Homo sapiens: one gene and its partners. The protein of the gene in region 1 interacts with the protein of each later gene in a biochemical or structural test. Each region holds a gene or a part of one and is shown in the gene's direction. Other genes may lie near its edges.

Region 1 (7,973 bases):
AGGGCCAGCTTTTCTCACCTCCACTGTATGGATATTTTTCTTTTCTAAGATCTTGAAATCAGAAGCTTTTCTCCTAAGTGTAAAAGTAGCTCTTTGTCATACAACTGTAGCGTTTTCTGAAACAGAGTTCAGATGACCTTGAGTCTAAAGTGGCTAACTTTCCAAGGTGTGTATCGCTTTACCAAAACCATTATTTTTCAAGGATTCAAAGAATGTGTTTACAATTGATAGAAAATGGAAGTTTAAAAAAATTAATACTTTATAGCATGTTGAAATGAGGGCAGCCTTATACAAAGTCATACTTTGAGCTTGCCTAGCCTATTGTGATCAGAGAATAATGTAATTTTTGCTTACAACTTGGTAAGCAGGTCAGTTATTCTAACTTATTTTCTGATTAGAACAAAAAGATGTAAAAACTTGAAAACTATTGGGAAAAGAACAAAGAGTGAAGAGGACTTTTGAGTGCTGAGGAATGTGGCAGCTTGGAAAACAAACTTTTTAGGCAGAGATTCTTTGCTAGGTCAGTTTGATAAAGTGAGCATAACCGTATTTTTAATCTTTAATGCTAATGAATAGCATAGATGCTAATAAGCATCTAGGTCTATAAAAAGTCAGCTTTGATAGTGTATATAGATGGCTTTAAACATTGTTTTCTAGCATTTAAACACTTTCAAATCATCCGGTTGCTTGATTGGGCCTAGCTGTCTAAGAGGAGAGAATGAGCCCAGATGAGGAAAAGAGATTGATTTTACTGAGCTAGAATGAGAGGAGAGAGGGTTGAGTGAATGAAAAGAATAGCTCATGTGCTCCCCTCCATCTGTAGTTTAAGAGGGGTTGGGTCCGGTGTTTTGCTTGTTTTCTCGTCTGTAAATTCTTTGATTCTCTGACACCACTCACTATATTTCATTGTGAATGATTTGATTGTTTCAGATAAAGGGGACTGCAATAATACCTTGTGACATGAAGGCAAGATTTATTCATGTTAGAGGCAGGCTTTGTAAAATGGGCCACTCTTCCAATTGACATTTGTTTTTATAGCTGTTTTCATTATGAAATACAATCTAATGCCTGACTAGGTTAAAACCATGTTGTAACAATAGTTCACTAAAATTCCTTACTGATATACAGCTTATGTTGTTATATTCCAAAAAGATGAATATTAAAATTTGCCAATAATGTTTATTTAAATACTATTTTCTTCAGAGGAAAAAAAACTATTTTATGCAAAGGAGAAAGATCTATACACTATGACTCACTTCACTTAAAAAAAAAAAGACTAACGGAAATGACATGGAGAGACTGGGAAGTTCTAGTCATCTTGAGTGACCCATTAGATCTAAATGTTCTTGTTTAGCCCTGGTTTGAGTGAACTAAATTTAGGTGTCTGATCAGTACTTTGGAAATGGTGTAAATGCCTTTGTAATTGTCTGGACTGATATTAGATTAACTGGGAGCACAAGTAGAAATAGTGAAGGAAAGAACTTTTTGCTATTGTTATTTGACATCACTGGCATATTTATAGGAATACTTTGGTGTTTTTGGAAGTAAGTAAACCAACCAGTGGTTCTAAAAAGTCAGCTGGGGGATAATGGTAATGCCGCTGTTTCTTAGCTGCAAGTTATCTGCCGTTACTTCTCCTCCATTTTGCATTTTATCTTGAATAGCTCCTCAAAACCTATTAAAATACCTGGTATTGAATAATGTAATTGAATGTGTACTGAATTTCACAGTGGAAATGAATAAGAAATTTCCTGTGGAGGTTTTTTGACTTAGCTACTGAAATAACGGCCTTTTGTTGTGTGATTCTTTCCCTTTTCTCTTTGTTAAAGAAAACTGTCTTGTGATCTTGTAGATTACAGAATCCTTTTGGCAATTTCTGTTCCTAGCACTGCTTTTTCTTTCTTTCTTTCTTTTAAATAGAAATGGGGTTTTGCTGTGTTGCCCAGGTTGGTCTTGAACTCCTGGCTTCAAGCGATCCTCCCACCTTGGCCTCCTGAAGTTGGGATTGCAGGCGTGAGCAGGTACTTTTTCTGAGGCCTGCCTGAGCCTATATATATTTTGCACAATTTGGCATTCCTCCCTACAGTGTTTATGCTGATTTGTTTCTGGTAACAACTAATACTGGCAAATCGGCTGGGCATGTTACTTTATGCTGCCCATATTCAGGAAAATTGGAATTCTAGCTGGGTCATTGTTCCCAGATGATGTAGTTTGGCACCAGCCATTCCATGTTCACATTTTGAGTATCCAGGAGGGCTGGGGACTTTGGAGTAGTTGGTGATTCCCTCTGCCACATTTCACTGGTTGGTCACTATGGCATCCTTTCCACCACACTAGTAGTCTAGGTTCTCAGATGTTGCTTATGAGCCTGCAATGGTTTCTAGTTTCACACTGCAGAAATGAGTGAAGCCGGTTACCCGTTAATATGGTCCCATCATCACTAGAGTAATTCATTGTTCTAAAACCAGATCTGAGTCTCTCACTCCTCTGCAACTACTTCTGATTCTTTCATAACACTTGTAAAGTCCAAACTCCTCTTTAGCATGGCAGCCAGCTTCCAGTCCTTCCCTCCTATGTGGCTTCCATTCTAGCCAGACAAGAAAGGGCAGCGTTCTCCAAACTCATCCTCGCCCTTCATTCCTCTATACCATTGCTGAGCACTTTGTTGAGGATGCCTCTCCCGTTCAATCTAGCTTGCATCTTCCAGCTCGAATGTGTGCTTCCTTGCACCAGAGTTTTGTTCCGTCACCTGTGTGTTTTCATACAAGCTGGCACATATCTCTTCTAAAGCCCTGCTGTCATTGTAGCTGCGTCTTTACAAACATTTTTTTTTTAAATTTTTATAAAGTCAAGGTCTCACTATATTGCCCAGGCTGGTCTCAAACTCCTGGGCTCAAGTGATCCTCCTGCCTTGGCCTCCCAGAGTGCTGGGATTATAGGTATGAGACACTGTGCCCAGCTGTAGCTGCTACTTTATATCCCAGGTCTATCTCCAATGGAGCCCAAGCTTCCTGAGGCCACCTGTTGTATCTTTCTCATTCATCTTGAAGTCCTCTGCTCCTGGCACAGAGTAGGTACCTAACAAGAGTTGGGATTGAATTGATGGTCAGTACTTTGCTAGCCTGATGGTATAAAGATGTACAAAACATGTTCCTGGCTCCCACTCTAGGGGGGCAATGATGGAAACAAATAGATTAGCCCACATTAGTACCAATAGTAGAGGTCACTCTGGGAGAAGGCCCCCACCACATTTTGAGTCATGGCCTAATGAGGTAATTTAGTATTGCCTGCTGCAGTGGCTTTGGAAGAAAGGCTGGCATTCTTAGCCAGTAGAAGCTGATACCACTGATTTGTTTCACAGAAGCTTTAAATATAACAATAAATTTGTGCTTGGCCTACGGTGAACTTTACAGGCAACTTGGAGGTAATATGTTTGTCTCTCTAAGAATTGTTGAATTCCTCTTCCCTCATCCCTCCTGACTGGTTCTCACAAGCCTAGCGGGCCTTTGCATGTGGTTGGTTCATAAAATACTTTTTGATTTTGGGATATAAAATATAGTTCTCCATAAAATAACGACTGTTACCAAGTCTTTGATTTTTTTTTTCAAACTATAAATGGTAATGACATTCTTTGGCCTTTGATCAGACCACCCTTAGGGGCAAGAGAGTAGTTTCATGTTTTGCTTTTTCTAGTGTCCCCTGTGTCTGGGTATAGTTGCAGTCTCAGCTGTCATACTAACAGTGCTGAGTGAGTCCCTTACTTTCTTTGGGTTTTGGTTTCTCCCTTGTAAAAATGATCCTGGACTAACTGATCATTAAGTTCAGGTCAAGTAATAAAAATCCTTAATGTACTCACAAATACAATTTAATGTTCCTGAATAATCCTTGTAAAAACTGCAGCAGTTACTCAGTTTTGTAAGGTGTGGTTGGGTACTATTAGGCTCAAAAGTTTATAGGAGCTTTGTGAGTATAGTTAACAACTCAAAAGAATGGGGTGTTTTTTCCCGAGGGGCATGAAATGTTTTTGATAAATAGAGTTCATTTGACTTGGTAATGTGGAAAATGAGTAGCCCTGACACGTACGCTATGCTTTTGCAGTTTTTCTCTCAAGTAGCAATTGGGTGGCTTTTCCTGTAAAAGATAGAGGAACTGATTCTTGAGAATTTACGAAAGCTTCAACCCTAACTAGGTATGCAAAGAATAGTTGCCCTTTATGTTGTAATTTTAGGAAGAAACCTACATCTGGTCTAAGTTTCATTTGAATAATATGATAGTTTACACATCTGCCATATTTGAGAAGAAAGTACCTAAGTCTCCAGCATTTTAGAAATAATGCTTTACTTTGTGTAGAAATGGTCTTTAGAGTTTAATAGCTGCTGCCCTCTCCTTTTTCAAAGCAGCTTGACATAATCATGAGTATCTTGCTGACAGCTTGTAAATTTTGATTGTATGAAAACTGAAAATAAGACCATTTCACATGGAAGATTCCCTCCTGCCCTGAAACAGCCAAAGAAAACTGTAGCCATCAAATCTATTGATCTCTGGGCTTTGGTACAAGTCACACTACTACAAATAAAATAATACCAAGTACTTATAAATGATTTTCAGTCCTTTTAAAGTTTATTTTTTTAATATTTTTTTTGAGATGGGGTCTTGCTGTGTCGTCCAGGCTGGAGTGCAGTGGCACAATCTTGGCTCACTGCAACCTCCACCTCCTGGGCTCAAGTGATCCTCCCACCTCAGGCTCCCAAGTAGCTGAGACTACAGGCATGTGCCATCACGCCCAGCTAATTTTTGTATTTTTTTGGAGTAGAGATGGGATTTTGCTGTGTTGCCCAGGCTGGTCTTGAACTCCTGGGCTTAAGCCATCTGTCTGCCTCAGGCTCCCAAAGTGTTGGGATTACAGGTGTGAGCCACTGTGCCCGGCCCAGCCCTTTTTTTAAGAGAAAAACGTATGACATCGTTCGATTTACTGAGTGCTTATGGTTTTACTAAGGCAGTAAGGTTTTATGGATACCCTATGGTAATTAGATAGAATTAGTGCTCTGAAGTCAGCTCTGTAATATGGACTCAGAGTAAACATGGCAAAGGGACACTTAAGGTCTGCATTTTCTCTGGGAAATAAACGTATTCTTTACTACTCTGAATCTAGTGCTGGGAAATTCTAAATCCTTCTTGAGGATTAACCACTTGAAGTAAAGTTTTGGGTCCCAAGTAGGCTTGTGTCCCTGTCTCCTTCTCTTTACTTTTCAGATGTTTCTTCCTAGAGACTGAGGTATATTTTACTTTTACAGATGAAGAAGGAAGCCTCGGCTGTGTTTGTGGCTTTTGTGGGTGAGCAACATCACTTGCAAAGATAAGATGAGCATAGCAAAACTAGGCTTTCAAAATAATTTTTAAAAATTTCTTAGTGATTAGAAAAGGAAAACTCTTCCCTTGTCTCTGTTAAGAAACGTTTTTCGACTTTTTTCCTTTCTTAATGGATCTTTTATTGGCACTTCTCTTCCTTTTGCAGAATCTTACTTAAAAGTCACTACGTTACATTACAGCAAACAGCTTAGCTAATTTTTATCCAGATGGGCCCCGGTTACAGGATTGTACACTATTGCGAATTTCTTACAGGAAAGTGAACATCAAGTAATTATTCCAAATAGAGTTCTCTTAAGAACGTGAGTTACTTAAAAATGTCTAAGGATGAAGTCACTTCTGAATATAACTTCACTCAAGAGAACAAATAAGCAAACTGCATTTAGCATAACATGGTAAATTAGCTTTAACTCTCCTTGATGTTTGAACATTTGTCGCTGTTAACTACTGTTTCACTTTTCAAATAGTCAGGGCTTAGTTTGCTTCTGTAAGGATAAAGGGAAAATACGCCTTCACTGAGTCATAAATATTTTTGTGGCTAACTTTTGCACAGAGAAAAGAGGCCTCTAAGAAGGTACCCAGTGAATTTTTTTTTCGGGGCAGGGAGAGAATATGTCATTTTTTGGTTTGTTGTTGTTGTTGTCATTGTTTTGCTTTGTTGTTTTTACTCTGAACTGAACTGTATCTTGACAGCACTTTTGAATTAAGAGCATTACTCTTATTGTTCTCTACTACCTGGACGCCACCTCCCTGTTGCCATAGTGTTAAGGATCATGCTCCGAGGTGGGGTGAGGCAGAATGGGGCCAAGATCAGAAAGTTACATTAAGCTACATCAGGTTTATACAAGCATAAAACCAAATTTTTGGAGCAGTCCCCAGAATACAACCTGGTTTAGCCACACCTAAAGGTTGCTCTTGAATATTCCTTGAGAATCCACATCCCTAGAATGCTGGGTTTCAATGGGCCCTTTATGTACCTATCATGGTGTCATTTCTGAGCATTTCTAAATATTCCTTCATGTCTTACTGACAGTTTTTCTTGAATAAATCTTAGGAATATTAGTGCCATTATCAGTATTTTGTTTGGTCTGTTCACACCACAAATAACTACCCAGGTCTGCTACTTGCCCCTATTTCTCTACCTGCTAATGAAAATGCTTTTGAAAGTTTGAGTAACAGTATTGGAGTGTGCACAGTGGTATTGGTAGGTTCTGTACTCATCCTTAACCACTTGTTTTCATCCTTTGTGAGCTTGAAGTTTCTCCAAAAAATTTATCACAAAACTTATCAGACATAGTTAATACACTCAGAGAGAGAATCACTGAAAAAGTAGATGTAGTTTAACAAACCCAGTGCCTTTTTTTTACCCATGAATACATATTTGTCAACTAAACCTCATTTTGCAACTTGTTCCACTACTCGAATGGTAACAAACTTTTGGTTTCCCAATAGATTTGGAAGATGTTGCTTTTGAAAGTAGGAAATAGATGGCTTTAGAAGATGGAAGAATATTTTGTTTGAAGTGGGAGCGTGGTATGTCCTTAGCTGTCTGTGAAATGCAGCTGAAGATGGGTGTGGGCCTTCATCTGCATTTCCCATCTTCAGTTTGAGGAGGTAGTTACCCTTCTAACCACTTAAGAACTGCATGGTACATGCTGTTTTATTTACAGGGCAAAACTGTGCTCCCGTAGTTTCCCTGGTGCTTGCCTTCACGTTAACACAGTGTCATCGTTTGGCAGTGTTTATGTGCCAGGGTCCATGTTAGAAGGAGGAAAGGTATAGCGAAGTTAAAGGGTGCAGTTGGCCTCCCACCTTTAGTTTTGTAAGTGCCTTTAAAGTTTGATTTTTGTAGGTTGATCATAAGGAAGTGATAAGTATGTTAGGTTATTTGTGGTTTGAGCTAATTTTAGTCTCTTTTTACAGCTTGCTTTGTATCCTTTGCCATTAAAACATGCTTTCTAGAAAGACAACTTTTGAATGTAGGACACAGTCTATATTCTATACTTGGCTACATTTCAAAAAATATTTTCTCAGTACTTTGGAAGTTGGACAGTTGGAAGCATAGTGACAGTATTTAAAAATCTTTGATTCCGGCCGGGCATGGTGGCTCACGCCTGTAATCCCAGCACTTTGGGAGGCCGAGGTGGGTGGATCACTTGAGGTCCGGAGTTCAGGACCAGCCTGACCAACATGGTGAAACCCTGTCTCTACTAAAAATACAAAATTAGCCGAGCGTGGTGGTACATGCCTGTAATCCCAGCTACTCAGGAGGCTGAGGCAGGAGAATCGCTTGAATCTGGGAGGCGGAGGTTGCATTGAGCCGAGATCATACCATTGCACTACAGCCTGGGGGACAAGAGTGAAACTCTGTCTCAAAAAAAAAAAAAAAATTAAGTGATTTCTTTGCTTTGTGACACTTCTACTTTTCCAGCAAGTAAATTATATTCTTTCATACAGGTATGAAATTCTTGTTCCAAGCTAGTGGTTAAAAAGGCACAGTTGATATTAGAGGATTTGTAAAAGATTATGACCACGCCTGCAATGTACTGAAGCAAGGCTTTGCTGGGCTGTGTATAGGAAACCTTCCCCAGCCTGTGCCCTTGCTT
Region 2 (8,056 bases), on another chromosome or scaffold:
GTGGTGGGTACCAGCCCTCGGCTCAGTGCCACCTCTCCCTGTTCTGCTTCTAGGATGAGGTCAAAGCTGCCCGCAGGAGTATGCTGCAGAAAACATGGCTGCTGGCAGATGAGGTAGGGTCAGGGCCATTAGGAGGGTGGGATATTAGAGGATCTTGGGGGACAGAGACCACAACAGGATCTCATTACCCACTTCATAAGTTTTCTTTCCTTTCTGCAGGGTCTCCGGCAGCACCTCCTGCACTATAAGCTTCCCAATTCCACGCTCCCAGAGGGCTTTGAGCTCTATTCTCAGTTGCCCCCTCTGCGTCAGCACTACCTCCAGAGACTGACTTCAACAGTGCTCCAAAATGGGGTATCAGAGACCTAGGATAGTTGATATAGATGGAAAGATGGGTACGTTGTCCTGTATCCAGCCTTTCAACAGATGTCTGGCCAGACGAAGAACATTGTGTCCTAATGGTAGGCAGGAGACCAAGGAGCAGAAGGCTTGCCTTCCTGGGAGCAGGTTGTTTGAGCTGTTTTAGAGCAGTGAGCCCTACCATTACATCCTGATATCTGGGGCTTCTGAAGGTCTGTACTGGGAGTGAAGAGTGGCTTAGCTATTTACCCGCTCTTTGGGGACAGGGCAAACTAAATGCATCCCTTCTTACCTAACTCCCAACCCCTGCCCTGGGCTGAGGCATATGAATGCTATAGTTGTGCATTAAAATAAATGTTTTTTATCTCCTGGAAATTTGATCTGGACTGATTTCAGCCATGTTAGTTCAGGGTTAGTATCTGGGGGTGGGTTATCCCAGGTGAGGAGCAGGACTGCTGTGAGAGAGATGGGGAAGAATCATAAGTGGGAGGTAAAAACTTTGTCCACATCTGGAGACAACAAGAATGTGGGGCCTGCCAGGCACAGTGGTACACACCTGTAGTCCCAACTACTTGGGAGGCTGAGGCAGGATGATCACTTGATTCCAGGAATTCAATTCCAGCCTAGCCAACATAGTGAGACCCCATGTCTGTCTGTCTGTCGGTCGGTCGGTCTGTCTATCTATCTATCTATCTATCTATCTATCTATCTATCTATCTATTTCTGAGACAGGGTCTTGCTCTGTTGCCCAGGCTGGAGTGCAGTGGCGTGATCATAGCTCACTGCAGCCTCGACCTCCTGGGCTCAAGCCATTCTCCCACCTCAGCCTCCTGAGTGGCTGGGACCACAGGCAAGTGCCACCACGCCTGGCTAATTTTTTGTATTTGTAGAGACGGAGTTTCACCATGTTGCCCAGGTTGGTCTTGAATTCCTGAGCTCAAGCAATCCACCCACCTCAGACTCCCAAAGTGCTAAGATTACAGGCATGAGCCGCTACACTTGGCCTATTTTGGTAGTTTCTACATTGTTCTTTGGTCTGAATTCTAAACTTTAGGCTTTCTTAGACTGTCTTTTGCTGTGTGGATTACTTATTGTGTTTGCAAGTAACCAGAGTCAGAGCAGTGTGCCAAGGCCTAGCCCTGTCAGTAGGTAGAGAGAACCCAGTCTTCATAAATGGAGCTGCTGAACACAGAATTATCCAATAGGTTTTTTTGGGTTTTTTTTTTTTTTTTTTTGACACGAAGTCTTGCTCTGTTGCCCAGGCTGGAGTGCAGTGGGGCAATCTCAGCTCACCACAACCTCCCCCTCCCTAGTTCAAGCCATTCTCCTGCCTCAGCCTCCCAAGTAGCTGGGATTACAGGCGCGTGCCACCACGCCTGGCTAATTTTTGTATTTTTAGTAGAGATGGGGTTTTGCCATGTTGGCCAGGCTGGTCTTGAACTCGAACTCCTGACCTCATGATCCGCCCGCCTCAGCCTTCAAAAGTGCTGGTATTACAGGCATGAGCCACTGGGCCCAGCCTTTTTTTCTTTTTTTTTTTTGAGACAGAGTCTTACTCTGTAGCCCAAGCCAGAGTGTAGTGGCATGATCTTGGCTCACTGCAACCTCCGTTTCTGAGGCTCAAGTGATTCTCATGCCTCAGCCTCCCGAGTAGCAGGGGCTACAGGCATGCACCACCACACCGGGCTAGTTTTTTGTATTTTTATTAGAAGCGGTGTTTTGCCATGTTGCCCAGGGTGGTCTCAGACTCCTAAGCTCAGGCAATCCGCCCACCTCAGCCTCCTAAAGTGCTGGGATTATAAGTGTGAGCCACAGCATGTGGCCCCAATAGGTTTTATTAAGCAACTACTGTATCAGCAAATACCAATGATTCTCAAACTTTGTGACAAAAATCATCTGGAGGATATTTTAAAACAGATCACTGGGTCCTACCACCAGAAGCTGCTGATTCAGTACATCTGGGGTGAAACCCAAGAATCTGCATTTCTAACAAGTTCCCAGGTAATACTGATGCTGATGTTCAGAACAAACCACACAACCACAATTTGAAGAGCAGTGGCTTAAAGAGACTTTGCAAGGTAAATTCTGTGATCTCATAGTGTGATATCTAGTGTTAAGTAGGGCATAGAGACCAGGGTTTTTTTGTTTTTTGTTTTTTTTGAGATGGAGTCTCACTCTGTCACCCAGGCTGGAGTGTAGTGGTGCAATCTCGGCTCACTGCAACCTCTGCCTTCCAGGTTCAAGCAATTCTCTGCCTCAGCCTCCCAAGTAGCTGGGATTACAGGCACCTGCCACCACGCACGGCTAATTTTTGTATTTTTAGTAGAGACGGGGTTTCACCATCTTAGCCAGGCTGGTCTTGAACTCCTGACCTTGTGATCCACCCCACCCCCACCGTCCCCTTGGCCTCCCAAAGTGCTGGGATTACAGGTGTAAGCCACCACGCCTGGCTGAGACCAGACTTTTTACAAAATCACTGTTCTGTTTACACCTTGAATTATACTCAGACTTTACCAAGTAGCTAACTACTATAACTTCTCTTTTGAAGTATTTTGTATTAAACATAGGTCTCAGACTTTCAAGTTAGGATTTTTTTTTTTTTTTTTTTTTTGAGATGGGGCTTTGCTCTTGTTGCCCAGGCTGGAGTGCAATGGTGCGATCTCGTCTCTGCAACCTCTGCCTCCCAGGTTCAAGCCATTCTCCTGCCTCAGCCTCCAGAGTAGCTGGGATTACAGGCGTGCGCTACCACGTGTGTCTGATTTTGTATTTTTAGTAGAGACGGGATTTTGCCATGATGGTCTAGCTAGTCTCGAACTCCTGACCTCAGGTGATCTGCCCGCCTCAGCCTCCCAAAGTGCTAGGATTACAGGCATGAACCACCGCACCCGGCAAATGATCATTTAAGCAAATGATCGAAGACTCAAGACACAAAACTACCTGAAGGGAGTGGCTCCCACATTTGTAGGGTACCTTACAGAGCAATTTCCCTTCATATGATTTTGCAGGTGGTGGGGAAACTCTCAGGGCAGTTGTGGCCTGTGCTACATCACCCATTGACCAGAGGTGCCAGTACTAGTGCTCAAGATCAATCGATCGATCGGTCTACCTACCTATCATCTATTGACCTTCAGTGCTACTAAAAACACTCGGATCTTCTAACGTCTGGTCCAGTCTTTCACCCCATCACAGTGAGAGGCTGTGCACAGGGGTAACACAGGCAACGGAATTATATGAGGCAAACACAGAGATCCAGGTTTCTGGGAGTAGCAATGAGGTTCAGCCTTGCAGTCACAAAGGCACCACTAAAAGGCACAAGTAATGGCAGGTAATGAGGCCTTACTTGGAGCAGTTTAGAGTACTTCCCACGTGTGGTGACGCATGCCACACACTCACCACCACCACCACTGCCACAAATGAAGTGCACACTCCACTGCTCCTGTCCTCAGGAACCTGGAAGCCCCCACCTGGTGTCCGAGGTGTGGCTCCCACTTTAAGCGTGGGGCACCTCCTCTCCGGCCTCAAACCTACCGGAGCTCCCAGCAGGCTGCGGCACATCTGACGGCTGGAAACTAGAACCCCTGGGTGGGGACTCCTTAAGGCTCCTCCCGGAAGCGTAGGGACCTCGCTGCCCACACGCCCCTCCCTTTCCTCCTCTGGCGTCCTGGGGTCTGAGGTGGGCGTGGCCAGACCAGCTTTAGGTCCGGGGAGTGTCTCGCCAGCGGCAGCACACCCCTGTAAGTGGTGGCCAGGGCTGCCGTGGCAAAATGAGCTGTCAACTTTAGGTTGACAGGGGTGTGGCCGCGACCGCAAGGGCTTTTGTTGCCGGGTGGACCCAACAGGGATGGGCTGCTGGGGACAGCTGCTGGTGTGGTTCGGAGCCGCGGGTAAGTGCTATCTGGCGGTCAGGGGACCGTCCAGCCTGAGGCACTTTCCTAGGCTTGGGGGTGGCCGGTCAACAGGCCAGGTGTCAGTGGTTCCTCCAGAGGCCTCGAACTCTCACAGCCAAATTTCTCCGGTCCGTGCTTCTGGAGTGCGGGCCGAGAAGCGCCAAGTGCGTGCGAATCCCAGAGTCTGGATCACGCAGCTTGGGAAGGAGGAACATTCTTTGGGGTCTCAGCACCGCCTTGGGGCGGGGCCACCAATCTAAGTTGAGGAAAGCATTGGGGAGGCTGCAGGACCAAATTCATTGCGGCCCCTAAGTTATTCACTGGGAAAGGCGCTCGAGGAGAGAAACTGGCAGACCTATCAGCGCGCACCCGCGGGGCTTCTGCGACCGGAGTCGGGTAGTGGCTTCCAGGCTGAGAGCGCGGCTGGGCCGGGTGACGGGTGTGGCCGCGACCGCAAGGGCAGCTGTTGCGGGGTTCTCTCTTTCTTTCATATCCTATTTCCACCCGCCTTAACGTCCTGCGCCTTCTCCCAACACCTTTCAGGCGCCATTCTCTGCTCTAGCCCGGGGTCCCAGGAGACTTTTCTGCGGTCCTCGCCCCTGCCGCTGGCAAGTCCCAGCCCCCGGGACCCGAAAGTCAGCGCCCCGCCTAGTATCTTGGAGCCAGCCTCCCCGCTGAATTCTCCGGGTGAGCTTTAGACGCCTCCTTCCTCTTTCGCTCACCATACCAGACCCCTCTGGCCCAGCCAGGGGCTCGACGACCCTTGCCTCGCTCCTTGCTCTCAGGCACCGAGGGGTCTTGGCTGTTTTCTACCTGCGGGGCCAGCGGCCGGCATGGGCCCACACAGACACAATGTGACGGGGCGTACGCGGGGACCAGCGTGGTGGTGACCGTGGGGGCCGCCGGGCAGCTGAGAGGCGTGCAGCTGTGGCGCGTGCCGGGCCCTGGCCAGTATCTGTAAGTGCACGGCGGAGGTAGGGTGGACAGTGACCTGCTAGTTGGAGGTTTCACCCTCAGGGTAACGAAGTCCACGTGCGCACCGACTTGCGTCTTGGACTATTCCGCGGGGAGGTCCACCTTGAGTGCCCTTCAAGGTGGCAGTAGTCGCCACCGAGTTAGCCCTTACCCGGAACCTCTTACACCGAGCGGAAGGCCCCCAACCAGGGCGGCGCCAAGGGGTGCTTGAGCCTCCCCACATTTCCACGAACCCTCCTGAAATAAGTGTAATATCTGATTTTTCGGTGTGCAAACCTACCCTTCCCATCCCGTCAGAGTCGATTGCAGCCTCCAAGTCCCTCAGATAAAAAATAATTCTGGAGCCTCCTCTGTCGCCAACTTCTGCCCGGAGCGGCCGGCCTGAGCACCGAAGGCCGGGGACTCACCGTCCGTTCCCCGCAGGATCTCAGCCTACGGAGCCGCGGGCGGCAAAGGCGCCAAGAACCACCTGTCGCGGGCGCATGGCGTCTTCGTCTCAGCAATCTTCTCCCTCGGTCTCGGGGAGTCGCTGTACATCCTGGTGGGGCAGCAGGGAGAGGACGCCTGTCCCGGAGTGAGCGCAGCCAGTGGGGATGGGGCGGCGCCGGCGCCGGGGGCGAGGGCTGCCTGGGGGCCGGGGGAGCGTGCTTTCCTCGGTGCCGGGTCACCAGCACAGCGAGGGGAGGCTCCCGGGCCCCGCCGATTCCCTCCCCCGCTGCCCGCAGGGTAGCCCGGAGAGCCAGCTCGTCTGCCTCGGGGAGTCTCGAGCCGTTGAAGAGCACGCGGCGATGGATGGGAGCGAAGGGGTCCCGGGGTCGCGGCGCTGGGCGGGAGGTGGCGGGGGTGGCGGGGGCGCCACCTACGTTTTCCGGGTACGTGCTCCCTTCGGCGCTCAGCGTTGGGGTCCCAATCCTCTCCCCAGGGGCGCTCACGCACCGGCTCTCCGTCCGTCCCTTGGGGTCCCCCTATCCCTGCGCTGGGCTGGGCTGGCCTGGGCTGGGCTGGGGGCCCCTGCCCTTATCCAGGCCCCCTGGGCGGGAGCCCTCTCCCAGTGGCAGTGCCCCTGGACAGCTGGAGGGCGCTTCCTGGAACACGCCGCTGGCCCCACAGGTGCGCGCTGGCGAGCTGGAACCGTTGCTGGTGGCGGCCGGAGGCGGCGGTCGGGCCTACCTGAGGCCGCGGGACCGAGGCCGGACTCAGGCCTCCCCCGAGAAACTGGAGAACCGCTCGGAGGCGCCCGGGAGCGGCGGGAGAGGCGGGGCGGCAGGTGAGGGCGCGGGCCGCGGGGAGAGGCGGGCGTGCTCCCCGTGTGGCTGCCAACCTTCCTGCTGTCGCTCTGCAGGTGGTGGGGGCGGCTGGACGTCGCGGGCTCCCTCTCCGCAGGCCGGCCGCTCACTGCAGGAGGGGGCGGAGGGCGGCCAGGGCTGCTCCGAGGCTTGGGCGACCCTTGGCTGGGCCGCGGCCGGCGGCTTCGGGGGCGGCGGCGGGGCCTGCACTGCGGGCGGAGGCGGCGGCGGCTACAGGGGTAGGTGCACCGTTGGAGAGGGCAGCTGAGCAGGCCCGAGGGTGAGGTGATGTTAGAACCTAAGTACAGGCCGGAGCCCTCGGGAGGATAGGTGTGGGAGAGGCATTAAGCCCTGCTCAGCAGCTCCAAACAAAAAGCAGGAGCTCTTAGAAAAGGAGGTCAAATACACTGCAAATCAGCATGCAGACAGGACTCCCTAGATTTCCGTTTAATCCAGGATCTTTCCCATCACAGCAGGTCCCTGCCTTGTTCTGCAGCAGTCTTCAGAACTTAGAGCTGGCCGAGTGAGCAAGCTGAGCAAAGGGGCAGAAAGGCAGGATTGGGTTAAGTCAGTGGTTCTCAAAGTGTGGTCCAGGAACAGGTAATATCCCCACAACCTAAGTTGTTCGAAATGCACATTATCAGCTGGGCCTGGTGGCTCACGCCTGTAATTCTAGCACTCTGGGAGGCCAAGGCAGGTGGATCACCTGAGGTCACCAGTTCGAGACCAGTCTGGCCAACCTGTGAAACCCTGTCTGTACTAAAAATACAAAAATTAGCCGGGCGTGGTGGCGGGAGCCTGTAATCCCAGCTACTCTGGAGGCTGAGGCAGGAGAATTGCTTGAACCTGGGAGGCGGAGGTTGCAGTGAGCCGAGATCACTCCATTGCACTTCAGCCTGGGCGACAAGAGGGAAATTCTGTCTCAAAGATTAAAAAAAAAACAATGGAAATTATCCTGGGAGTTGGGGGAAGGTTGGGGAGATGCTGGTCAAAACAATGCAAAATGGCAGTTAAATAGGAGGAATACCTTCCAGAATCTACTGTACTACATGGTGACTGTAGTTAATGACGATGTATTCTTGAAAATCGCTAAGAGAGGCGGGGCGCGGTGGCTCACGCCTGTAATCTCAACACTTTGGGCGGCGGAGGCGGGTGGATCTTGAGGTCAGGAGTTTGAGGCCAGCCTGGCCAATATGGTGAAACCCCCATCTGTACTAAAAATACAAAAATTAGCCGGGCGTGGTGGCATATGCCTGTAGTCCCAGCTACTCGGGAAGCTGAGACAGGAAAATCGCTTGAACCCGGGAGGCGGAGGTTGCAGTGAGCCAAGATCGTGCCACTGCACTCCAGCCTGGGTGACAGAGCAAGACTCTGTCTCAAAAAAAAAGAAAAGAAAATTGGTAAGAGCGTAGATTATAGGTGTTCTTACCACAGAAAATAAGCATGTGAGGTGGTGTATATATTGGTTTGCATTAGCCATTGCACAGTGTGTACATATTTCAAAACATCATGCTGTATACAATAAATATATGAATTTTTTTTTTAGAT
Region 3 (7,973 bases), on another chromosome or scaffold:
GGGGAGATTATAAAGAACCTTCCTAAGGGTGGGGGAGATTACAAAGTATATTGATCAGTTAGGTTGGGGCAGAAATAAATCACAATGGTGGAATGTCATCAGTTAAGGCTATTTTTACTTTTTTTGTGGATCTTCAGTTGCTTCAGGCCATCTGGATGTATACGTGCAGGTCACTGGGGATATGATGGCTTAGCTTGGGCTCAGAGGCCTGACAGCGTGGACTTCTATAGTGCTATATTTGTACTACTGGGAGGGCAGGGGTAAAATGTACCAAAATTAGTAAATTGTGATTCCTCCCTCTACTTTTTTCACTTTTTTTTTTTTTTGCATTCTTCCAATAAATCTGGGCATGATATGGCTAATGCAGAGTGCCTGTGAATGAAGTTCAAACTGCAGAATATGGGACAACACAGTAATTGGATTTATCAGTGATTTCAGATTGGGTGATAATGATTCTTGAATTTTGGTCTTAAAACGAGGTCACGAGGGGACCTTTGTAATTACGAATTTTAAACAGCTCAGTGTGGGGTACAATTTAACTAGGAAAAACTTGCCTTTTATGTAGATGAGACACTCAAAGAGAACTTACTGTCCTGATTGGGATGACAAGGATTGGGATTATGGAAAATGGAGGAGCAGCAGCAGTCATAAAAGAAGGAAGAGATCACATAGCAGTGCCCAGGAGAACAAGCGCTGCAAATACAATCACTCTAAAATGTGTGATAGGTAAGGAGGATACTTAAAATGTCTGAATATAACAATACATTACTAGACAAAACTAGTATCACTTAAAATAAGTACCTGATTACTACCATTCGTTTGTTTCCAATGAGAGATTTTGATGGTTTGTAATGTTTGTAAAATTAAGCTGCTTGTGGGGGAGTCTAGGTGCTGTCTTGAAGAGAATGTGAGGATATTTGGTCTTAGCATAAAACATTGAAAATAATTTTTATTTCTCTAGCCATTATTTGGAAAGCAGGTCTATAAATGAGAAAGATTATCATAGTCGACGCTACATTGATGAGTACAGAAATGACTACACTCAAGGATGTGAACCTGGACATCGCCAAAGAGACCATGAAAGCCGGTATCAGAACCATAGTAGCAAGTCTTCTGGTAGAAGTGGAAGAAGTAGTTATAAAAGCAAACACAGGATTCACCACAGTACTTCACATCGTCGTTCACATGGGGTATGAACGTTTTTAAAACATTTTGGAAATTTTATATCCCATGTGGAACAGGGAAACTTGAATTTTTGTGTTTGATTATTTGAGAAAGTTTTAAGATGAAATCATCTCAGTTTTAACCTGCAGGATTTTTTCTGTGTTTGTGCATTGGATAGGAAATTCCGGAAATAAAGTACACATTTAGTTCTATAATTTAATTATTGGTTGGCTCCTAATTGACATTCCAGTGAAATGATGGGAGTTAATTGATTTAATTTAGATTAGTTGAAAATTATTACAAAATATTCTAAAAGGGTTTTTTGTGGTACTTCAAGAAACCTGATTAGTTTTGATCTATTGAAATCACAAAAGTAGAACAGGGCATTTTATTTTTGTATAATTTAGGATTAGGTATGCTTCTTTGTTCTAACAAGTCATGTTTTCTAACCCTTCTTTCACTAAGCAAACCAGAACAGATTTGAACTGTTATGGGTTATATATTAGTATGGAGATCAGCTCAGATGACATTAAAAATGCCGTAGTGTTATTCTTGTATGCCAAATCTTTTTTTCCCCAAAATTAGCACTTTAATTTTATTTACTGTTATAATATTTGTTTTCTTAGATTAGGTAGGAAATCTTAATTTGGCCACCGCCTACTTTGACAAGTAAATATTACATCATACGATTTTGCAACATTAAATTAGAACACTAGAAACTAAAAAATTATGTTTCAGTGAATGCTACAACTAAGCATTTTTTTTTTTTAAGAAAAACAATTGTATTATGTTTTGTTGCCTTGCCACTTTGAGTATCTTATCTGAAAATCTGTTCCTTGCCATGTTTTTCTCCTGTTAACATAAACTATGTGCCCTGTGAATTTCTGGGGACTGAATTTGAAATTGCTCCTGCCAACCGTTTGTGGCCTGGCGTGTATCTGAATGCCTGAATATCTCCCCGCTGAATGAATTTCGTATTCTGCCCTGAATTCACTCGGGTATATTGATTGGCTGGATGATCTTGGTGCCGCCCACTTGACGTTTCCAGAAGAGTCACCGAAGGAAAAGAACCAGGAGTGTAGAGGATGATGAGGAGGGTCACCTGATCTGTCAGAGTGGAGACGTACTAAGTGCAAGATGTATAGAATATTTTTCAACACTTATTAACTTTTCAGATAACATAATCTATATATAGATTAAGCTTTCAGGGATTTGGAAATCTTTTTTTCTTTCTCTTTTTTGTTTTTGTTTTATTTTTCCATTTCTTTTGGTGGGGGGGATTGTATTTTTGCTTTCTTTAGAAATGTAATGTTTGTTATATAGAACTTCCAGAACAGTAATCAAATTAATGAAATTAGACCTAATAATTATGTTTTTTGATGGTGTTGACCAATAAAATATCTAGTGATAAGGAAATTTGTAGCATCAACTAGAATAATCTACATTGATAGCATTTATTGTGATAAGTACATTGTTTCCACTTCTTGATATGACTGAGATTTATTTCTCTCTTTTAGATGAAATTGTTGATACTTTAGGTGAAGGAGCTTTTGGAAAAGTTGTGGAGTGCATCGATCATAAAGCGTAAGTTTCCCATGTTGGGATTACTTTTAGGGAAGTTGGCAATACAGGTAATTGATTTAGCTTTAGAAAGTGGTCTGACCATGAGTTAGATACATATCTTTATACCCTTTTTTACTTGGATGTAAGACACTTCCAGTTAAGAGGTACTTGCCCCTTCATATTTTTTAAACAGCTACTAATAGTATGTATAATTTCTAATTTTAGGCTGAGAACACACTTTATATTGTTTTGAAAGTATTGTTTTGTTGTTCAACTGGACACTGTTGTTAGGCCATATTTTTTTCCCCCACCATATTAGTGGTTCTCAGCCTTGGTTTTATGTTAAGATCCTCCTCGAGAGGTTTGCCTACCCCAGACCTTTTCAGGGTAGTTACCTAGGAATCTATATTTTTAGGAAGTGCTGTAATTCATTCTGATAACATAGCTGGAGATAACTTGGTGTCCCAAGTTTAATTATGTATGTTTATCAAACTACTGATTGAAATTTTTTTTTTTCTCGAGACAGAGTCTCGCTCTGTCACCCAGGGTGGAGTGCAGTGGCGCAATCTCAGCTCACTGCACCCTCTGCCTCCCGGGTTCAGGTGATTGTTCTGCCTCAGCCTCCTGAGTAGCTGGAACTACAGACACGCGCCACCATGCCCAGCTATTGTTTGTATTAGTATTGTATTGTTTGTATTAGTAGAGACTATGTTGGCCAGGCTGGTCTCGAACTCCTGACCTCAGGTGACCTGCCCACCTCAGCCTCCCAAAGTGCTGGGATTACAGGCATGAGCGCTTGGCTCCAGCCATGAAATTTCTTAAGATAGTATAGAATTTTTTCCGTTACTCTTTTTTTTTAGTTCCCTGTTTGTTGTTGTTGTTGTTGTTGTTGTTATTGTTCTTCCTCTTCCTGAATGGCAAAGCATTTTTGAGGGGGCTTCCTACTATTGATTGGTAAGGACATGAGAGCTAGAGCTCTTTTTTTGTTTATTTTTCTTTTCCCTGAGATGGAGTCTTGGTCTGTCGCCCAGGCTGGAGTGCAGTGGTGCAATCTTGGCTCACTGCAACCTCCACCTTCCGAGTTCAAGTAATTCTCCTGCCTCAGCCTCCCAGGAAGCTGGGATTACAGGCACACACCACCGTGCCTGGCTAATTTTCATATTTTTGGTAGAAATAGGGTTTCACCATGTTGGTCAGGCTGGTCTCGAACTTCTGACCTCAAGTGATTTACTACCCTCGGCCTCCCAAAGTGCTGGGATTATAGGCGTGAGAGCCACTGCTCCCGGTCCTAGAGCTCTTTACTCTTTCCCCACTGTATCCTAACTCTTTTGGCAACCTGGACTAAAAGAACATTTGAGATAATGTTTGACAGTGACAGGTACCATATAGGAAGAAGTTGTTTAGCTGAAATACCAAAAAATAACTCATGTGAGTGGTGGTTTGATGAAAGAAATTTGTGTCATTCAGCATGTAATAGAATCAGAACTGAACACTAAACCATAAATTAAAAAAATACAGTGGGTCAGAGTAGTAGTACAGTTTGAAGACAGTAATACCTGGAATTGAGCATCATGTCTGTCATTCTTAAATTTGCATGCATCTTTCTAACAGGGGAGGTAGACATGTAGCAGTAAAAATAGTTAAAAATGTGGATAGATACTGTGAAGCTGCTCGCTCAGAAATACAAGTTCTGGAACATCTGAATACAACAGACCCCAACAGTACTTTGTAAGTATCAGATTAGAACTTGGGAAGTGGTATCAGGTATATTTAAATTAGGAGCAACTATACTTAGCTATTTTTCATGTGTTTGTAGCCGCTGTGTCCAGATGTTGGAATGGTTTGAGCATCATGGTCACATTTGCATTGTTTTTGAACTATTGGGACTTAGTACTTACGACTTCATTAAAGAAAATGGTTTTCTACCATTTCGACTGGATCATATCAGAAAGATGGCATATCAGATATGCAAGTCTGTGAATTGTAAGTTCTTGGTATATCTTCGTTAATTTGCTGGTTTTATCCATTCCACATATCAAAATGTGCATCCTAAGTGTGTACAATTTTTATTTGATTAAAAATAAAGGGGGAGGAAGAATAGGTATGAAGAGATTTGATTACAGGCTGTTGATCCAGCAGTGTACATTTCATTCAGCAAGTAGGATATCCACCATATAACAACGTACTTTGTTGCAGACTATGATTTAGACTTTTCTGATGCGCAAAAATAGTAACTTCGAATGCTGGGTAAAAATTAAGGCGTGATATATCTCATAAAAGAAAGCTTCATAAGAGGTAGTAAGTTTTAGTTACTGGTGATTTTCTAGCAGACTGGAATGTTGACCATTCTTTGGGAAAGGAATCAGAGGTTTTTTGTTGGGTTTTTTTGTTTTTTGAAATGGAGTCTCGCTTTGTTGTTCAGGCTGAAGTGCAGTGGCGCAGTCTTCACTCACTGCAAACTCTGCCTCCCCAGTTCAAGTGATTCTCCTGCCTCAGCCTCCCGAGTAGCTAGGACTACAGGCACACGCCACCACACCCGGCCAATTTTTGTAATTTTGGTAGAGACAGGGTTTCACCATATTGGTCAGGCTGGTCTCGAACTCCTGACCTCAGGTGATTACAGGCGTGAGCCACTGCACCCGGCCTGTTGTGGGGTTTTGTGATTTGGTTTGGTTTGGTGTTTTCTGATTACAGCAACTTTCTCTTTATTCTCAGTTTTGCACAGTAATAAGTTGACTCACACAGACTTAAAGCCTGAAAACATCTTATTTGTGCAGTCTGACTACACAGAGGCGTATAATCCCAAAATAGTAAGTCTTCCAAAATATTCATAAAGTATCTTATGCCTTAATAGCTTATGCCTTCTTAACCATCATTTATGATTTTCAGAAACGTGATGAACGCACCTTAATAAATCCAGATATTAAAGTTGTAGACTTTGGTAGTGCAACATATGATGACGAACATCACAGTACATTGGTATCTACAAGACATTATAGAGCACCTGAAGTTATTTTAGGTGAGTATTAATTGTCCTTTGAGAACCTTTGTATTTCCTTATTGAGACTTAAAATTTTTTTAGCAGTTTTAGGTCTTACTTGTGGGGCTTTATCATATTCTCTTTAAGGGATAAGTATCATGAAGTGCATTATGGATTTTAAGCTCTCAATTGTACCAGATAATTAGCTCTGGGAATTTGAGCAAGTGGCTTAACCTTTCTGGAATTGTTTTCACATTTGTAATATGTGGTAGGGTTTTTAAATGTAATTGTTTAATGCCAGGTGGGGCGCGGTGGCTCACATCTGTAATCTCAGCACTTTGGGAGGCCAAGGGTGGGGCGCGGTGGCTCACATCTGTAATCCCAGCACTTTGGGAGGCCAAGGCGGGCAGACCACATGGTCAGGAAATCGAGACCATCCTGGCTAATATGGTGAAACCCCATCTCTACTAAAAATACAAAAAATTAGCTGGGTGTGGTGGTACACGTCAGTAGTTCCAGCTACTCAGGAGGCTGAGGCAGAATTGCTTGAACACCGGGAGGCGGAGGTTGCAGTGAGCCAAGATTGCGCCACTGCACTCCGGCCTGGGCGACAGAGCGAGACTCCATCTCAGAAAATTGTTTAATGCCTATTTTATTCCAGACTATATATAACACTATATAATTTATTTATTTTTATCATTTATTTATTTTTTAGACGGAGACTTACTCTGTCGCCCAGGCTGGAGTGCAGTGGTGCAATCTTGGCTCACTGCAACTTCTGCCTCCTGGGTTCAAGCAATTCTCCTGCCTCAGCCTCCTGAGTAGCTGGGATTATAGGCACCCACCACCACACCCGGTTAATTTTCTTATTTTTGGTAGAGATGGGGTTTTTACCATGTTGGCAGGCTGGTCTCAAACTGCTGACCTGGAGCAATCTGCCTGCCTTGGCTTTGCAAAGTGCTGGGATTACAGGCATAAGCCACTGCGCCCGGCCATATATATTGTATTTAACCTTGGATTAAGTGATTGCTTTAGGATCTTCCAGCTCAAACATCACATTGCATATATATGTGTATATATATAATTTTTTGGGGGGGGGGCGGAGTCTTGCTCTGTCACCCAGGCTAGAGTGCAGTGGCGCGATCTCGGCTCACCGCAAGCTCCGCCTATGGGGTTCACTCCATTGTCCCACCTCAGCCTCCTGAGTAGCTGGGACTACAGGTGCCTGCCACCATGCCTGGCTAATTTTGTTTTTGTATTTTTAGTAGAGACGGAGTTTCACCGTGTAGTCAGGATGGTCTTGATCTCCTGCCCTCGTGTTCCACCTGCCTCAGCCTCCCAAAGGGCTGGGATTATGCCTGTAGCGTGAGCCACTGTGCCCGGCCAATTCAGATATATATATATCTTAATAGAGGTGGGATCTCGCTGTGTTGCCCAGGCTGGTCTTGAACTCCTGAGCTCAAGCAGTTCTCCCATCTTGGCCTCCCAAAGTGCTGGGATTACAGGTGTGAGCCACTGTGCCCAGCCTACATTACATGTGTTTTTTTTTTTAAAGTATTAGTGTTAACTAACTTTTTAATTTCTTTAACAAACATTGAGTATTTTTTTTCCTTAAATTTTGCTTTGCTTTGCAGCCCTAGGGTGGTCCCAACCATGTGATGTCTGGAGCATAGGATGCATTCTTATTGAATACTATCTTGGGTTTACCGTATTTCCAGTAAGTGACAATGATCTATTTCAACCTTGCTTTGCACAAGAAAGGTGCCTGTTTATATGAATAAATACTTTTGCTTCCCCCATTATAGACTATTAATTGTAGATAAGCATAAATAAACTAATTCATATTTCTTTCATAATTGTTTTATTTAAAACATCTTTCAGTATATAAGCAATTATCCGTGTCCATGTAGGGAATCATTGGCGAGTTTGTTCTGCAAGCCTTAATGTTAGTTTTTTTGCTGTCAGCTTTAACTGTGTCTGTTTTGGTGGTCATCTTCCCCAAGTCTGTTTTTATTTTATTTCTAGACACACGATAGTAAGGAGCATTTAGCAATGATGGAAAGGATTCTTGGACCTCTACCAAAACATATGATACAGAAAACCAGGTACGTTTTAAGAGTTAGTGACATCCTTAGTATCATTTGATCACATCTGCTGATTAGAACTTAATTTTTTTTTTTTTTTTGAGATGGAGTCTTGCTCTGTTGCCCAGGCTGGAGTGCAGTGGCGTGACCTCGGCTCAATGCAAGCTCTCCCTCCTGGGTTC
Region 4 (7,973 bases), on another chromosome or scaffold:
TTCAATGGAAAGGTGAGAGTAGAAGCCAGATTGTTGTAGACTCCAGAGTAAAGGAACTGGAAATTAAGAACATGATCAACTTATTTAAGAAGGACCCCCGGGAAGAGAGGAGAACTGATAGGTAGAGTAGGACCTGGACTTTGAGAGCCTGTGTTTTTTTCATATGAGAACAACTTGAATGTGTCATATGTTGAATCACCAGGAAGAAGGGATTAAAGATAAAGGCAGGGAGGGGGCAGTGAAACAGGATCCCTGAGGAAGTGAGAATACGGGTTGTGGGCAGGGGAGGGGAGCAGGTTAGCCTTGCAGCAGGAGGAGCTGCTCTTCCTCGGAGAGAGGATTTCACAACACTGGCAAGAGTGGCTCCAGTGCCTGGAGCGGGGATTAAAGCAGTAAGTCCAGTGGGGTCCAAGGGCCATGCAGGGGTACAGTGAGGAGAAAGCAGGTGTGATCCGGGTGGCACATCAGATCCTTCCAGCAACCAGTCTGTTAGGAGCAAGGGCAGATGTTGTGAGCCCCTATGTTTCCCCCAAGAAAATCAAACCTCTGAGAGGTTTCTCACTTGCTTATCTTCAGCTGGCCGAACTCAGCCTCAAACCCATATGTCCTGTCTCCAAGTTCAGTGACTGTTATCATCAACTTCTTCAACAGTAATAATAATAGATCACATTTATGGAGTGCTTGCCAGGGCATGTTTACATCATTATCTCATTTAACACTCAGAACAATCCTCTGTGGTGGGTGTTTTCATCGTTCCCATTTTGCAGGTGAAAAAACTGAGACTTCAAAAGGTTAAGTGACTTCCCAGGGTCCTACGACCTACATAATAAGTGGCAGAGCCAGGATTCAAACCTAGGTTATCAGAATAATGCAGCAAAGCCCAAACCCTCAGCCCCTTTTCACTGACTGGTAAGACCCATATTTAATTCGATGCCCTACATGCCGTGCACAAGTTTCAGTTTTCTGAAGCATCGCTTAGATGCTTAGGTGTTTAGCACCACTCTGAACTCTGACTTTTCTAGAGAGGCTGCTAAAGGCATTAGAAAGTTTCTGAAGTATAATGGAAAAACCCTGCTGGAGTAAGTGCCTGGCACACTCAGGATTATCAGTGTGATTCTTTATAATAAACAGGCTCCCAGCACCAAGCCCAATCTATTCCATCAGCTGGATAAGAGCTCTCTGGCAGGCCTTGGGCCAAGCTGGCTTCCTTTGCCTCAGCAGAAGAGCATTCTGATTCTCTCTGCCATCCCCAAAACTGACAGGAGCAGAGAGAAACAAGGCAGAGGCATGAAGGGAATGTCCTCTGCGGCAGATGGTGCTTCCGGAAGAGCTCCCACAATCTGAGCTAGAATGAACAGGGGCTAGATCCAAGTCTCATATAGGCATACTTCTGCTTGACAGAGTGGGCATGCCGAGGGCCGTTGGGTGGAGGCAGGCGTGTGCAACCCAAGCAGACATGAGACGCAGCTCCTTCAAGGCAAGGTTGCCTGAGCCCAGAGAGGCTCAAATTTGTGCCCCAACTTCCTCTGTGGCTTTTGGGTGGGGCTCTTCAGAATCGAAACACACTCAGAGGGCTGCTGAAAGGGCTAAGAAGTGTTCAAGGTTGGCTTCCATCAGGCTGCTCATGACAATGGCCCCTGAGGTTTTAACACCCTTGAACGCTTGGTACTAAATCAATTAGAGGCAGGGCAGGAGCAGAAAGAGTTGGCGCATTTGATCAGTAAGTTCCAATGCCAGTGCTGTCTATTATCTGTGAACTGTGTTAACTTTGGACACGTCACTTCACCTTTTTGAGCTGTTTCCTCGTCTGTAAAAGGGGGATAATACCCATTCCATGAGGTAAAGCTTTGAGCACAGTCTCTGATGTAAGCAGGTACAGAATATATAGATGCTGTAAGTTTCATGGTCCCATGGAAGAATTCAAAAGGGTTAGATCCCGCCTGCCCTCAAAAGGGTATGTGTTAGGAAATCAGAGTAATACCTAAGTAGTAAATTGCAGAGTCCAGAGACTCTGGGACTCAGACTTGAAGGGATGAGTGAGGATTGGACTAGGACGACTTCACGGAGGAGGTGACAATGAGCCTCAAGGTATGATGCAATATGGAAAAGGAGGGAAGAGAGTGGGAAAGGAAGGAATTTCATGCAAGCAAAACAACTTGCATGCAGTAACAGAGGAGAGAGGATGCTAACCCAGTGGATAGGGTGGCTCTAGAGTGTGGATGGTCTCCACGTCTGGCAGAAAAGGCTGGACTTGCTGCTGTGGCCCCCGGGACACAGCACAATGAAGGAGGCTCCAGGCAGTCCAGAGTGTGCAGGGTCCAATGCCTGCCCTTCTCAGACAGGACCACCCATCCACCCATCAGGGCCCAGGGAGCAGGGGTCAGAAGGACCTCATGACACAGAGTTCTGACTGTGATGACACACTTTCCCCAGAGGGGAGGGGAAGGGGAGAAGGGGTTAGAAGACCCCACTGAGAATGGAGGCATCCTAGCTGCAGAAGCACCTGGCTGGTAGGCTAACAGCACTTTGTGGGTCTCGTTCCCAGGAGATCTGCGCTGACCCCCAGTTTATCATTGGAGGAGCCACCCGCACAGACATCTGCCAAGGAGCCCTGGGTAAGTGATAGATTCAGAGCAAGCTGGGGGATCTTGTCTGTAAGGCTGTGGGTGGAAGAGATGAGGGACAACCTGTGGCTTCTCTCCCTTCCCAAGCAGCTTGGCAATTTCTATTTGCAGAGAAGCTCCATGGAATTTCTTGGCCCTAGCGGGCAATGATTCTACCCTCAGCCCCATGCTGGGGCACACAAATGAGGCCTCCTGTGTCCCCTGCACAGGGCTAGTTGCTGAGGTTACAGAGATGCTGCCACTAGGAGGACCAGGGGGCTTCTGGATGTCAGCCACCCCTTGGTATGCACCTCCTGGAGCCAGCATTACCAGTGGTTCACGAAATACACTCTGGGCAGAGGACTAGGTGGGAGGACTCCCCCAGACCAATGACAGCACTGAGACATCAGTTCTGTGAGGTTCAGGAACCAGGGAAGGTGACTCAGTGTAAAGAAAGAGGAAACTCTAATGCTCGCTGCTGAAGGAAGTTATAGTACCAGGGCATTCTCAGTGTTTGCAAGACAAGCTCACCATGGTATCACAGTTGTAACGCTCATTTAAGTAAAATGAACTGGAGTAGCTGAATTGTCCAAAACCTTGCTTTCTGGAGCCGAGTTCAGATTTGTTTCTGGAGATAGTCCTTGTTGAAGGTTTCAACCCACAGGGTTCTCCACCTTTAGTATGAAAATTCCCAAAGCTTCTAGGAAGTCCCAGCAATGGGGCCTGGCGCTGTTATCTAAGATTCTCATAGAATCTGCCCTCAATGTTCTTTTACTCATAATAAATGTGGGCCTATAATTACTAGAGCAGATTATTTGCTCTGATAAACCAAAAATCTATTTTCTGCCATCAGCCTCAGCTGGCTGGCTCCCCAGACAAGTTCATCAGTAGCAAAATCAGTCAACTAGAGTTGTACCTCCTGTCCTCACCCACCTAGCAGAGGTTCTGTTACTCATATACTCCTAATACCAGCTGATAACAGCTAATATGTATCTCTAAGGCACCGTGATTATTCCCATTTTATAGATGAGGATGCAGAGGTCTTCCTACAGCTAAAGTGGTGGCTGGTACCCCTGACCCCAGGGTATGTTTAATTCCTGAGCTAGACTCCCTAAGACGGGACCTGGAAAATTTTCTAGCCCTGAGGAATGTCAGAGCATCATGTGAATCATTAGGACAGACAGACTGTGAGGAAGAACATGAGCTGGGCGGGAAAGTTTGTCTGAGCTCAGGCTCTGCAGATTCCTGAGATGCCAGAGCACATTCTTACCTGCAGAAAACACTCCTTTCATTTCTTTTCTTCTCGCCCCACAAAAGACAGAAGATAGAGGTCCTTGAGCACCCAAGGCGGATCCTCCAGGAAAATCTATTCATTAGAGAAAATGGAATTGATGGAAACTTTGACCAACCCCGGGGGCTTTAGAGAATCCAGAAACAGCCGGCGCAGTGGCTCACATCTGTAATCCCAGCACTTTGGGAGGCCGAGGCAGGCAGATCACCTGAGGTCAGGAGTTAGAGACCAGCCTGGCCAACATGGTCAAACCCTGTCTCTACTAAAAATACAAAAAAATTAGCTGGACGTGGTGGTGGGTGCCTGTAATCCCAGCTACTCAGAAGGCTGAGGCAGGAGAATTGCTTGAACCCAGGAGGCAGAGGTTGCAGTGAGTAGAGATGGCACCACTGCACTTCAGCCGGGGTGACAGAGAGAGACCCCATCTCAAAAAAAAAGAGAGAGAATCCAGAAACAAACACAGCAACTGCCTAACATCTGCTTCAGAGTTTAACAACACCTTAAGTGCCAAAGTGTAAGCAACAAATACATGATTTAAGTCCTGTGTAAATACCACTGGGCCAATTGGAGAGGAGATAGCAAAGGTTAACATTCCTGGGAGAAATTTCCCTCCCAGGGGAATTATAAACCAGGTGAAATGTAAACCTTTTAAAAATTTCTTAGTAGCTAGTCTGTAATTTCTCAGGGGTGTGTGCGTGTGTGTGTGTGTGTGTGTGTGTGTGCGCGCGCGCGCGTATAATGCAGTATTGGTCATTTTGTTCTTTCAGCCTTTTATTTTGGAGGACTCTAGTTAGATCACAATCTGTGAAATGTGGTATACTGTACTCTCACCCTGATTCTGGCACCTGGCCAGCGGGTGCTGATGGGGCCTTGACCTTCACCAAATCCCAACAGCCTCACAAGCACCAGGAACAGAGGCCATGGCAGTGACACTCTGTGACATGGCCAGAGATATGAGCCTAGACTCAGCTCTGTTGGTAGTCCGAAGACTGGGCAAGTAATTACCTGGAACTTCCATCTGGAACCTCCGTCTCTTCCAAAAACGGAGAAGGAAGGAGGGTAAATGGAGTGACCTCAGACACCCCCTATGAGTTTGTATTCAGCTATTCTAAAGCCATTCCCGGGTTTCTAACCAGCTACTCCTCATTCCTTGTGCTAGAGGGTTAGAGCACTACAAGATCATCCTTATTTTCTCTCTTTCTCTCTTTTTTTTTTTTTTTTTTTGACAGGGTCTCACTCTGTTCCCCAGGGCTGGAGTGCACTGGCAGGATCTTGGCTCACTGCAGCCTTGGCCTCCTGGGCTCGAGTGATCCTCCCACCTCAGCCTTCTGAGTACCTGGGACTACAGGCACACGCCACCACACCTGGCTAATTTTTGTATTTTTTTGTATAGACCGGGTCTTGCCATGTTGCGCAGGCTGGTCTTGAACTTCTGAGCTCAAGTGATCCACCCACCTCGGCCTCCCAAAGTGCTGGGATTACAGGCGTGAGCCACTGCGCCCAGCCAAGATCATTCTTTTATTACACACAGAAGGAGTAATAACAGTACCCATCACCTGCATAACAGTATGCAATTCATAGAGCATTTTTTCACTACAGTATTTCATGTACTCATCCCAAATCTAAAGTAAATATTCTCACCTCACTGTACAGATAAAAAAAAACTGAGCCACAGAGACGGGAGAGTAAGTGTAAAGCCACACAGCTAGTAATTGCCAAAGGATTGAACCCTGGTCTGATTTTGAATCCTACACTCTTCCTAACCCATGCTCCCTCCAATTTGCCATAGTGCTGTGCTGAGGAACCATTCTCAGCAAAATTCATCTTCTCTACCTGCGCTTTCTACCCTGAGCCTTACTCAGTTCCCCCAGGGAACTTGGGCAGGTGACATTCTTAGACTTGTGCACTTTGCAACGCCCTGCCCTGTTTACTGTGCTGCCCAGCAATGTTTAATCCACAAACACCCACGCTCCTTCCCAGAAGGCTCAGCTTCCAAGCTTCACCAAAGTCATTTAAACCATGTTTACAGAGCTGCTCTCACCAAGAGCCATCTCCATTGCAGAATATAGTTGTGTAAGAATTGATTCAGCAGAGAAAAATCTGCCCTTCTGGAGGAAGGGCTGGAGACCCAGCTGGAGCCTCCACTGGCTGACCCTGCAGCTAAATATGGCTCTGAAATCGTGGGGTAATAACCACATTCTTACAGGTGCTTGCCACTTGAAATGGCTCCCAAGGACCCAGGAAACTCCAAGGCTGAGCTGCTCCTACCTCTGATGCTTTACTTTGCACTGGGTCACCACTGAGCTTTCCCCACAGCCTCACAGCTCACGGATGAAGGCAGCTACCCCAGCCAGGAAGGCATAGGTCACCTTGCAGGCCTCTGATTTCCTGGGGTAGAGCCCAAGGCTGCCAAGGCTGTTGAAACAGCACACCCCCATTTCATTGTAACCCAGCAAATGTTCCCTGGGCCCCTCAGAGGTGGGTCAACCTGCCTCCTTCTCAAGATGTCACATGGACCCCCAGAGCACCCACTGGGAGGTGTTTAGCTACAGGGTGCCCCACCCCACAGCCTAGCTCAGCAGAGAGTGGGGAAGGGACAAGACCAATGGGAAAGGCAAGCCAGATGGGGAATTTTCCAGTCCTGTTCCTTCTACCACTCATTAGCCACTTATTTGGACCCAACCCCTCTGAGCCTCAGTTTCTTCTTCTGTGAAATGGGAATAATGATAAGGATCCCTTCCCAGGGCTGTGGAGAAAAGTGAGATTTATACAGGCAAACACACTTGGCACACTATAGAATCCCAGACAAATTCAAGGGACCAGGATTATCATTACTGATTCCAGTTATGTGAAAAGTCCTTTTGCCAAATTGCCGAAGAAAAAGAGGATGGTGGAGGAAGAGAAAAGGAGGAGAAGAAAATAAGTTGGGTTGGAAACCAGATCCTTGTCCTTGAAAATTTCATAATCTAAGGGTGGAAATGCCAAAACGAGGAGAGACAAACTTGTGGCCTGTGTTTGGGTAACACACAGATTGAAACTCAGAAGGAGAAACATATGGGGAGAAAATGAACACAAAGGGGTCAGATGTGCATTCCTCAATTTTAAAAATTGAATATTTAAGTGTTTTAAATAATTTTTATTTCTTTTCCTTTCTTTCTTTTTCTTTCTTTCTTTTTTTTTTTTTTTTTTTTTTTTGAGACAGGGTCTTGCTCTGTTGCCCAGACTAAAGTGCAGTAACAAAACCATAGCTCACTGCAGCCTCGACCTCCTGGGCTCAAGCAATCCTCCCACCTCAGCCTTCCAAGTAGCCAGGACTACAGGCACGCACCACCTCACCTGGCTAATTTTTGTGTGTGTCTGTGTGGAGATGGGGTCTCACTGTGTTGCCCAGGCTGGTCTCAAGTTCCTGGGCTCAAGCAATCCTTCTGCCTTATCCTCCCAAGTGCTGGGATTACAGGTGCGAGTCACCACACCTGGCAAATAATTTTTAAATTATAAATTTAAAAATGCATTTTTATAATAGGTACCTTTAAAAATGTTAATAGACTTTTTTTTAAGAACAGTGTTAGGTTTATAGAAAAGCTGAGATGATAATACAGGAAGTTCCAGATACCTCATACCCAGTTTCCCCTATTATTAACATGTTACATCAGTGTGGTACACGTGTTATAATGAATCAGCATTGATGCAGTATTATTAAAGTCCATGCTTTATGCAGATTCTCTTAGTTTTCCCCTAAGGTTCTTTCTCTATTCCGGGATCCCATCCAGGACCCCACGTTTCATTTAGTTGCCAAGTCTCCTTCGGCTCCTCTGGGCTGTGACAGTCTCTCAAGTCTTTCCTTAATTTTGATGACCTTGACAGTTTTGGGGAATATTGATCAGAGATTTTGTAAGATGCCTGTCTATTGGAATTTGTGGTGCCTTTTTAATAAGTATGCAGTGGCTCACACCTGTAATCCCAGCACTTTGGGAGGCTGGGGCAAGAGGATCGCTTGAACCCGAGTTTGGGACCAGCTTGGGCAACATAGCAAAACTCTGTCTCTACAAAAAAATTACCTGGGCTTGGTGGCACATGCC

What was found.
Region 2: the proteins of PTPN1 (region 1) and LTK form a complex in vitro, tested with the Homo sapiens proteins (one study listed by BioGRID and IntAct).
Region 3: of the proteins of PTPN1 (region 1) and CLK1, one has a biochemical effect on the other in vitro, tested with the Homo sapiens proteins (one study listed by IntAct).
Region 4: of the proteins of PTPN1 (region 1) and CAPN2, one has a biochemical effect on the other in vitro, tested with the Homo sapiens proteins (one study listed by IntAct).

Annotation. Positions count from the first base shown.
Region 1 is NC_000020.11:50,512,631-50,520,603, forward strand, and holds part of PTPN1 (tyrosine-protein phosphatase non-receptor type 1), read left to right. Parts: intron 1-7,973. UniProt on the Homo sapiens protein: Tyrosine-protein phosphatase which acts as a regulator of endoplasmic reticulum unfolded protein response. Mediates dephosphorylation of EIF2AK3/PERK; inactivating the protein kinase activity of EIF2AK3/PERK.
Region 2 is NC_000015.10:41,509,855-41,517,910, reverse strand, and holds the start of LTK (leukocyte tyrosine kinase receptor isoform 1 precursor), read left to right. Parts: upstream 1-4,083; 5' UTR 4,084-4,201; coding exon 4,202-4,244; intron 4,245-4,790; coding exon 4,791-4,934; intron 4,935-5,032; coding exon 5,033-5,204; intron 5,205-5,645; coding exon 5,646-5,796; intron 5,797-5,947; coding exon 5,948-6,094; intron 6,095-6,332; coding exon 6,333-6,489; intron 6,490-6,502; exon of another isoform or gene 6,503-6,564; coding exon 6,565-6,747; intron 6,748-8,056. Other genes in the region: RPAP1 (RNA polymerase II-associated protein 1), read left to right, coding at 54-113, 220-369. UniProt on the Homo sapiens protein: Receptor with a tyrosine-protein kinase activity. Following activation by ALKAL1 or ALKAL2 ligands at the cell surface, transduces an extracellular signal into an intracellular response.
Region 3 is NC_000002.12:200,854,455-200,862,427, reverse strand, and holds part of CLK1 (dual specificity protein kinase CLK1), read left to right. Parts: intron 1-565; coding exon 566-726; intron 727-961; coding exon 962-1,190; exon of another isoform or gene 1,191-2,212; coding exon 2,213-2,303; exon of another isoform or gene 2,304-2,681; coding exon 2,682-2,748; intron 2,749-4,338; coding exon 4,339-4,455; intron 4,456-4,543; coding exon 4,544-4,710; intron 4,711-5,442; coding exon 5,443-5,537; intron 5,538-5,616; coding exon 5,617-5,746; intron 5,747-7,341; coding exon 7,342-7,424; intron 7,425-7,732; coding exon 7,733-7,812; intron 7,813-7,973. UniProt on the Homo sapiens protein: Dual specificity kinase acting on both serine/threonine and tyrosine-containing substrates.
Region 4 is NC_000001.11:223,715,217-223,723,189, forward strand, and holds part of CAPN2 (calpain-2 catalytic subunit), read left to right. Parts: intron 1-2,545; coding exon 2,546-2,615; intron 2,616-7,973. UniProt on the Homo sapiens protein: Calcium-regulated non-lysosomal thiol-protease which catalyzes limited proteolysis of substrates involved in cytoskeletal remodeling and signal transduction. Proteolytically cleaves MYOC at 'Arg-226'.